Linked DNA regions of Homo sapiens: all the other regions are linked to region 2. Evidence: fine-mapped expression QTL. A gene starts in region 2. Each other region holds a variant in brackets. All regions are shown on one strand. Distances are between the middles of the regions. Region 1 has its middle 15 kb from the start of SELENOK. Region 2 holds the start of ACTR8 (actin related protein 8). Region 3 overlaps IL17RB (interleukin 17 receptor B).

Evidence for each region. PIP is the estimated chance that this variant, and not a neighbour inherited with it, causes the effect.
Region 1: its variant is the best candidate, but not a certain one, in a credible set for the expression of ACTR8 in monocytes after LPS (Quach 2016, PIP 0.81).
Region 3: its variant is the best candidate, but not a certain one, in a credible set for the expression of ACTR8 in lung (TOPMed, PIP 0.74).

The regions. Positions count from the first base shown.
Region 1 is chr3:53,905,596-53,908,453 of GRCh38, reverse strand. No RefSeq gene overlaps it. Among named protein-coding and RNA genes, the nearest start is that of SELENOK, 15 kb to the right of the region's middle. The variant A/G (reference allele first, on the strand shown) is at 1,569.
Region 2 is chr3:53,880,739-53,883,578 of GRCh38, reverse strand. It overlaps ACTR8 (actin related protein 8), which reads left to right and starts at 1,427. Exons shown (of 13, transcript NM_022899.5): 1 at 1,427-1,600. The coding sequence starts at 1,478. RefSeq lists silencers at 1,211-1,300, 1,691-1,800 and an enhancer at 1,461-1,540.
Region 3 is chr3:53,860,408-53,862,907 of GRCh38, reverse strand. The region is part of intron 10 of IL17RB (interleukin 17 receptor B); the gene reads right to left. It also overlaps a transcript of ACTR8 not described here. Among named protein-coding and RNA genes, the nearest start is that of IL17RB, 15 kb to the right of the region's middle. The variant T/G (reference allele first, on the strand shown) is at 1,474.

The DNA of each region.
Region 1 (2,858 bases), 25 kb before region 2:
CTGTTATTGATTTCTAATTTCATTCCATTGTAGTTACAAAAAATACTTCGAATGATTCCAATCTTTTAAAAGGTATTAATACTTGCTTTATGGCCTAACATATGTCTATACTGGAGAATGTTCCATGTGTGCTTGAAAAGATATGTGCTCTGCTGTTTTGGCATGGTGTATTCTAGAGAGGTTCGTTAGGTCTAGTTGGTTTAGTGCTGTTCAAGTCTTTCATTCTCTTGTTTATCTCTGTGTATGTCTTCTTGCCAGTATTGAAAGTGGGATGTTGAATTATCCAACTATTATTGTTGTTGAAATGTCTATTTCTTTCCTCACTTTTATCAGTATTTGCTTAATACACTTTTAAAGTCTATTTTGGGGTACATATATGTTTATAATTTTTATACCTTTTTGGTGTATTGATTTATAATACTTATCAAATATCCTTGTTTTCTACTGATAATTTTTGTCTTAAGGTTTATTGTATCTGATATTGGTATAGTGGTTCCAGTTTTCTTTTGGTTACTGTTTGCATGGTATATCTTTTTCCATCCTTTTACTGCCAACTTATTTGTGTACTTAAATCTAAATGTGTCTTTTGTAAGAAACACAGAAATCATTTTTAAAAATGTCTTCTGCCAATCTCTGCCTCTTAATTGAAGTGTTTATTTACATTTAATGTAATTACTGATAAGGCAGAGCTTATTTCTACCATTCTGCTATTTGTTTTCTATATGTCTTATGCCTTTTTGATTTCTACTCCTCCATTACTGACTTCTTTTAATTCCCCTGTTGCTTATTTTATCATATTTTAAAACTTATTTTCTTAGTAGTAGCCCTGGGGATTACAATTAACACCTTAACTTTTAAAACTCTAGTTTAAATTAATGCTAACTTAATTCAAAAATATACAAAAACTTTGCTCCTGTATGGTTCCGTTTCTTCTCCCCCCTTGTGCTGTTACTGTCATATAAATTACACCTTTTTTTACATTGTTTGCCTATCATTACAGATTTTATAATTATTGTTTAATGCACTTATCTTTTAAATTAGTTAAGAGGAAAAAGTTACAAAAATATACTTACACTGTGTTTTTTATTTACCTATGTAGTTACCTTTACTGATTGTAGAGGGGCAAATGGTGGCCGCCTACAAATATGTCCATGTCTCAAACCCCAAAACCTATGAAAATGTTACCTTATTTGAAAAAGAAAAAACAAAAGATCTTTGAAGATGTAAGACAGTTAAGGATTTTGAGATGAGATCATCCAGGTGGGCCCTAAATCTAACAAGTGTCCTTATAATACACACACACAGGAGAAGACAGACGCAGAGGAAAGGGTGATGTGAAGACAAGGCAGAGATTGGATTGATGTAACTATAAGCCCAGGAATTCTGGGCAAGCCATAAGAAACTGGAAGAGGCAAGGAATGGGTTCTTCCCTTGAGCCCTGGAAAAAATGTGTCCCTGCCAGATTTTGAATTTCTAGCCTCTAGAACTGTGAGAGAATAAATCTCTGTTGTTTTAAGCCACCCAGTTTGTAGTAATTTGTTACAGCAGCCCTCAGAAACTAACACACC[A/G]GTGCTTTTTATTTTTCATGTGGATTTGAGTTATTGCTTACTGTCCTCTCATTTCAGTCTGCATTAATCCCTTTAGTATTTTTTTGTAGGGCAGATTTTAAAGCAATGAATTCTCTCAGGATATGTTTATACAGGAATGTCTTATTTTCTCATTCATTTTTGAAGGATAGTTTTTCTAGATATGGAATTCTTGATTCACAATCTTTTTCTCTCAGCACTTTGAATATATCATCCCACTGCCTTCTGGCCTCCGTGATTTCTGGTGAGAAATCACGTGTTAATCTTATTTAGAATTCCTTGTGTGTGATGAGTCACTTCTCTTTTGCTGCTTTAAAGATTCAACACAGTTTGATTATCATGTATCTAGGTATGGATTTCTTTGGTTTTATTTTATTTGGAGTTATTTTAGGTCTTGGGTGCATAGACAAATATTTTTCATCAAACTTGAACTGTTTTTGGCCATTATTTCTTCAAATATTCTTTATCCCTCTTTCCCACCTCTCTTTTGAGACTCCCATTATGCATATGTTTGTATGACTGATGGTGTCCTACAGGTCTCTAAAAACTGTTCACTTTTCTTCATTCTTTTTTCTTTATGTTCCTTAGATTGGATAATCTCAATCTATCAAGTTCACTGATTGTTTCATCTGCCTGCTCAAGTTTGCTGTTGAGCCACTCTAGTGGATTTTTATTTCAGTTTCTATATTTTCAACTCTAGAATTTCTATTTGGTTCTCTCTTCTTAAACAAAATTTGATCTCTTTATTGATATTTCTATTTGTCAAAACATCAGTCAATCAGTCATACTTTCTTTCTTTTTTTTTTCTTTTTTTTCTTTTTCTTAAACAGCATCTCATTCTGTCGTCAGGCTGGAGTACGGTGGTGTGATCTCAGCTCACTGCAATCTCCACCTCCCAAATTAAAGTGATTCTCCTGCCTCAGCCTCCCAAGTAGCTGGGATTACAGGTGTGCACCACCACACCCAGCTAATTTTTGTATTTTTAGTAGAGACAGGGTTTCACCATATTGGCCCAGATGGTCTCAATCTCCTGACCTCGTGATCCACCTGCCTCAGCCTCCCAAAGTGCTGGGATTACAGACATGAGCCACCATGTCTGGCCTTTTTCATTCTTTAGACATTGCTTGCTTTGCTTCTTTGCTTTGCTTTGCTTCTTTGCCCATAAATCTTTTTTTTCTTTTTTTTTTTTTTTTTTGAGGCAGAGTCTCAATCTGTTATCCAGGCTGGAGTGCAGTGGTACAATCACAGCTCACTGCAGCCTTGACCTCCCAG
Region 2 (2,840 bases):
TCAATAGCTTATGATCTTGAGTGAATTATGCCATTTTATCCCACTTCACTCACCTGTAAAACGGGGATTAAATTTTTACCTCCAAGAGTTCTTTATTTAGTATTTAGTCATCACATGCTTATTGGGCACCTACCATGTGCTGAAGATAACTGGCAAAGTCTCACGGAGCTTACATTCTAGTGTGGGAGACAGTGAGCAGGCATGATAATTACAGACTAATGCTTCATGCTTCAAAGGGAATAGGATGATGAGAGAATAACTGCGGAAGGCCTGAGGTGACATTTGAGTTCAGACGTGAGAATGAGACAGCTGAGGGAAGAGCATCCAAGGCAAAATGAACAGCAAGTGCAACAGCCCGATGACGGGAAGGGCTTGGCATGTCTGAGAAAGATAAAACAGGTGTAGCTGGAAATGCCAAGGAATGGGGAGAGTGTTGTGAGGTGAACTTAGAAATGTAGCAATAACTAGATATGGTCTTTAGGTGGTGGTTAGTTTAGATTCTGTTCTTTGAGCAAAGGGAAACCATTAGAGTTTAAAGCATGAGTGACATCTAATTTTTGAGGTAAGTCTTAGTGGAGTGCTGGGTACATAGTAGTATTAACTACGTAATATTTTAAAACAACGTGGGCAACTATATAAGAACAGATCATAGGGGGACAGGACAAGGAGTTCGAGTTAAGAGGCTGTTGTAGTCATCCAGGTGAGATGATAGTGGCTTGGGCTAGGTAGTGGCATGGGAATGGAGAAGTGGATGAATTCAAGATCTATTTTAGAGACTGCAGGATTTACTGATGGATTGGATGTAGAAGCTGTCAACAAGTGAAGAATCAAAATGACATTTACTGAGATGGTGAAAGTGAGAGGGGAGGGAATCAAGAGTTAAATTTTGGACATATTTAAGTTTGCAGTGCCTTGTAGACAATCCAGATGGAGAGACCAAGTAGGCACTGGTTATCAGTACGGATCTCTCTGAGCGGTTCATCCTGGATATATATATTTGGGAATCGTATTCATTGCTAAAGCCAGGAAACTGGATAGTCACCCAAGGAGTGTGCCTGGAAAAGACCTAACCCCAACATCAGAGGCTGGACTGAACATGAAGACATATGAGAAAAACTAAGAGTACATATGGTATCTGGGAAGCCAGGAGAAGAGATGCCTGTGAGGACGAAATAAGATGCGGGTTATCAGCCGACCCCCACTAGGCGCTCGAAAAGCTATGTGTACTATGTTGCTGGCATCTACACAGTCAGGACTAATCACAGCAACACCCACCCAATCAATCCGCATGCACACCCCGCCCCCAGCCCCTGCGCCGGGCAGCCCCACCCCCGCCTTTTCGGAGCCCTCTGGGGCGACTCCGCGGCGGCCATCTTGACTGTGGGCAGCCGGCCGTGCGCCTGCGCGGTGGCCCTTCCATCCCGGCAGTCGTGGCTGCAGCGCTGAGGCGAGAGGTTGGTGGGTGTCTCCGGCCATAATGACCCAGGCTGAGAAGGGTGATACGGAGAACGGAAAGGAGAAGGGCGGCGAGAAGGAGAAGGAGCAGCGCGGCGTGAAGCGGCCCATCGTGCCCGCGCTGGTGCCGGAGTCGCTGCAAGAGGTGCGGCTCTGGCTGGGTTGGAACTCTTTGCCCTTGCTTGGGTCCTCCGCTGCCAGGCAAGGGGCGGGAGGCGGCGGGAGGCTTCGAGTCCCCCTTGCAGGCCCCAGCCCCTGGTGGGGGGAGTGCGGAAGCGGTCGTTCTTTTCCGGGTGGTGGCGCGCCGGGACGCCGAGGGCTGGGAGGTGCGGAGCGCCAGGAGCCAGGCGGAGCCCCCGCAGGGACACCGCTCCGATCTCCCGCACGCCCCACCGTCTGGTTGTGTGCGCTCCTGCCCGGGCTCTGGCCTCAGCTTCCCCGACCATAAAACGACCACGGTGATAACCAGCCGCCTCGCAAGTTGCCGTGAGGGTTAAATGGTGGCAGATAGAGTTTAGGACCAGGCTGGCTCACTGGGAGCGTCAGCCTGTGCTTGTTAAGGGATAGTTTGGGGTCCAGGCTTTTTCCTTTGTTAAGGAAATCTCAGATAATGGAAGTCATTTCAAGCTTAAAAGCAAGGAAATGGTGGACATTTGTCTAAATATATATTAAGAGCTTGTGTATCAAAAACAACACTATTAGACCAAACTAAACTAACCAGAAAAAATTATTTGCAGTAGCGTGCCTGGCAGAGGACCTTAGATGTATACACATACACAAAACCTTACTGATCAGTAACTAAAACAGCATTCACGTAGGAAAACGGGCACAGGCAGTGTACAATTCACAGAAGAAATGAGGCATAAACTGCTCAGAAATTCATGTAGGACATCTCTGATCCAGCTTCCTTACCGGTAGATGGGTTAAGGATAATACCTAACTAGTAGGGCAGCTACTAGTTAGTTATCACTAGTATGACAGTGCCTGGCACACCGTAAGCCCAGAGTGGCCATTACTGTTGCACAGGCCTGGTTTCTCCATCTGTCTAGTTGAGAAGGCTGACTGGATGGTCTGTAAGGGCCTTGCCAGATCCTTCCCTCTAGGATTCTCCCACTCTGTGGGGGGTGATTAGGAGGAGAGAGGTCACACTTGGAGATAGGACAACAGGTATCAGAGCATGGCATGGAATGGGCTTGTGCAGAGGGCAGTATTGGGCACTCAAGCAAGTACCTCCTCCATCCCCGACAGTCAGGGAGGGTTTCTTCAAAGGAGGTGAGGTGACATCTGTTTAGAGTCCTGAAGGTGATTAGGAGCTAACCAGAGGGAGGAGGGAATCTCAGGGAAGAAGAACAGTGTGGAAGACACTTGTGCCAACAGAGGATGTG
Region 3 (2,500 bases), 21 kb after region 2:
CTCAGTGTAACTTTACAGAAAGACATCATAATTTCTGGCTTTTTTGCTTTTTCATTTTTCTAAAAATATTTGTATATGGTACCAATCCTTCCTCCACCACTTGCTTTAGGTTTAATGCTTGTATCATAGAAGGGTCTGTGTTACAAAAGAAGTGAAAAGCAGTCTTGACTAATCAGAAACCTGCCAGATTGTTTAATGTCGATTTGTTTTCTGATGCTGCTGCTTCTGTGTCGTCTTCATCATCACCTCACACTGATGGGGAAGCACTCGTCTCCAGCAGGTTGTCTTCTCTTTGTTCCTCTAGTGTGGTTATCTGTTAGCTCTTGAATTTCTCCAAGATCCGTATCTTGAAACCCTTCACCCCCCACCTTTTTTGCCACATCTACAATCTCTTTCCTTGATTGGCTCTGTTGTAAATCCTGTGAAGTCATGCACATCATCTGGACAGTTTTCTCCTGCAGGAATTTATTGTTTCAGGCTTGATGGCTTTCATGGCTTGCTCTGTCACAATGATGGCATCTTCAGTGATGTAATTCTTCCAGACTTCCATGTTGTTCTCTCTGTTGGTGTTCTCGTCCATAGTGTTGACAATCCTTTCCATAAAGTACTGTGTGTAATGAGCCTTGAAGGTCCTTATGGCCTCCCAATCTAGAGGCCAAATTATGATGTGTTTGGGGGCAAGGAGACCACTCTGAGGACTTTAGTGTTGAACTCATGGGGCTCTGGGTGGCTGGGGGCATTGTCCAATATCAAAAGAACTTTAAAAGGCAGTCGCTTCCTGGGAAGGTACTTCTGACTTCAGGGACAAAGCATCAGTGGAACCAATCCAGAAAAGTTTTCTCAGTGTCCAGGCCTTCTTATTGTACAACCAAAAGATTGGCAGCTGGTGTTTATCTTTTCCCTTCAAGGCCAGGGGGTTAGCAGCTTTATAGATAAGGCCAGTCCTGATCATAAACCCAATTGCATTTGTACAAAGCAGTCCAGTTAGCCTGTCCCTTCCTGCCTTAAATCCTGATGCATGCTTCTCTTCCTTACTAATCAATGTCCTTTGTAGCATTTTTTTCCCAGAAGAGGACACTTTCATCTGCACTGAAAACCTGTTCAGGCAGGTATCCTTTCTCCTCAGTGATTTTCTTAATGGCATCCGGGAACTCACCTGCTGCCTCTTGGTCAGCAGAAGCTGCTTCTCCTGTTATCTTGACAGTTTTTAAGCCAAACCACTTTTAAAAATTATCAAACCATCCTTTACTGGCATTAAATTCTCCAGCTTTAGATGCTTCACCTTCCTTTTGCTTTAAGTTGTCATATAATGACTTTGCTTTTTCTCAAATCATATTAGAGTCTACAGATATGCCTTTCTTACAGCAATCCTGCACCCACATAAAAGCTACATTTTCAATACAAGATTAAAAGGTATTCTGCAAAATGTGCAAGGTTTTCATGTCTGCTGGTGTAGCTGTAGTGATGGCTTCA[T/G]GAATTTTTTTCTTTTTTGACTATGGTCCTTACGCTGGATTCATTTATCTTGAAATGGTGAACAATCACAGCTGCAGACCCTCAATTTATGGTACATATCAAGCAATTTGGCTTTTTTTCTTGTAATGAAAAAAAAAAGTTTTTTTTGCTTTTTTTCATGACACTGCTTCTTGGGAGCACTGCCAGCATTACTAGTGGCACTTCGTATGGGTCCTAAGGTGTTATTGAAGGTTTACGATATTGCACTAAACACGAAAAATACCAGAGAACCACTGGAGATACTTTTTACTGTGATATGTAATTTACTGGAGACAGGAACTGCTCGTTTGGAGATGGTTAGCATCACAGGGTGTTTTAAGTCGATACTTGCAACCCTTGAGCTCACCACAGTAGCAACAGGAGGTGGCTAGGAAATTATTCACAGCAGGACAGTACGCACTGCAATTAATTGTATGCAGTTATGATTTAATACCACATCTTTATGCTCACGTTTCTCTCAACTGTGAATGGTGCCATGTACAGTTGGTATGTGTGTGTTTAAGTTTTGATAAATTTTTAACTTTTAATAGTTAAAATAGTTAACTATTGGTATGGTAGGAAATGATAAAGTAGACTAGTATCTGTATACATTTTCTGCATTTATGACATACCTTTTTCTTCATTTTTTTCAATATTTTAATTGAAAAGTTCATCCGAGTTTCATCTAAGTTTTTTCAAAGTGATACAAATCTCCAAAAAATTTTCCAATATATGTATTGAAAAAATCCAGGTGTAAGTGGCTCTGCGCAGTCCAAACCTGTGTTGTTCAAGGGTCAACTGTGTATGAATCCAAGCGAAAGCTTTTCTTAACACCTCATAAGAACTATTTTTTAAAAAACAGGAACTAGCATAGAGTAACCATCACAGGTAAAGTGTAATTTGTTATCAGCCATCTTTTGCCCATTTCAGTACTGGTAGAAGGCTCAATGGTAAAAATAAAAACGGGACAGTCAGAAGATCTGGAAGTCCTGACCCTGCTTTCACCTGG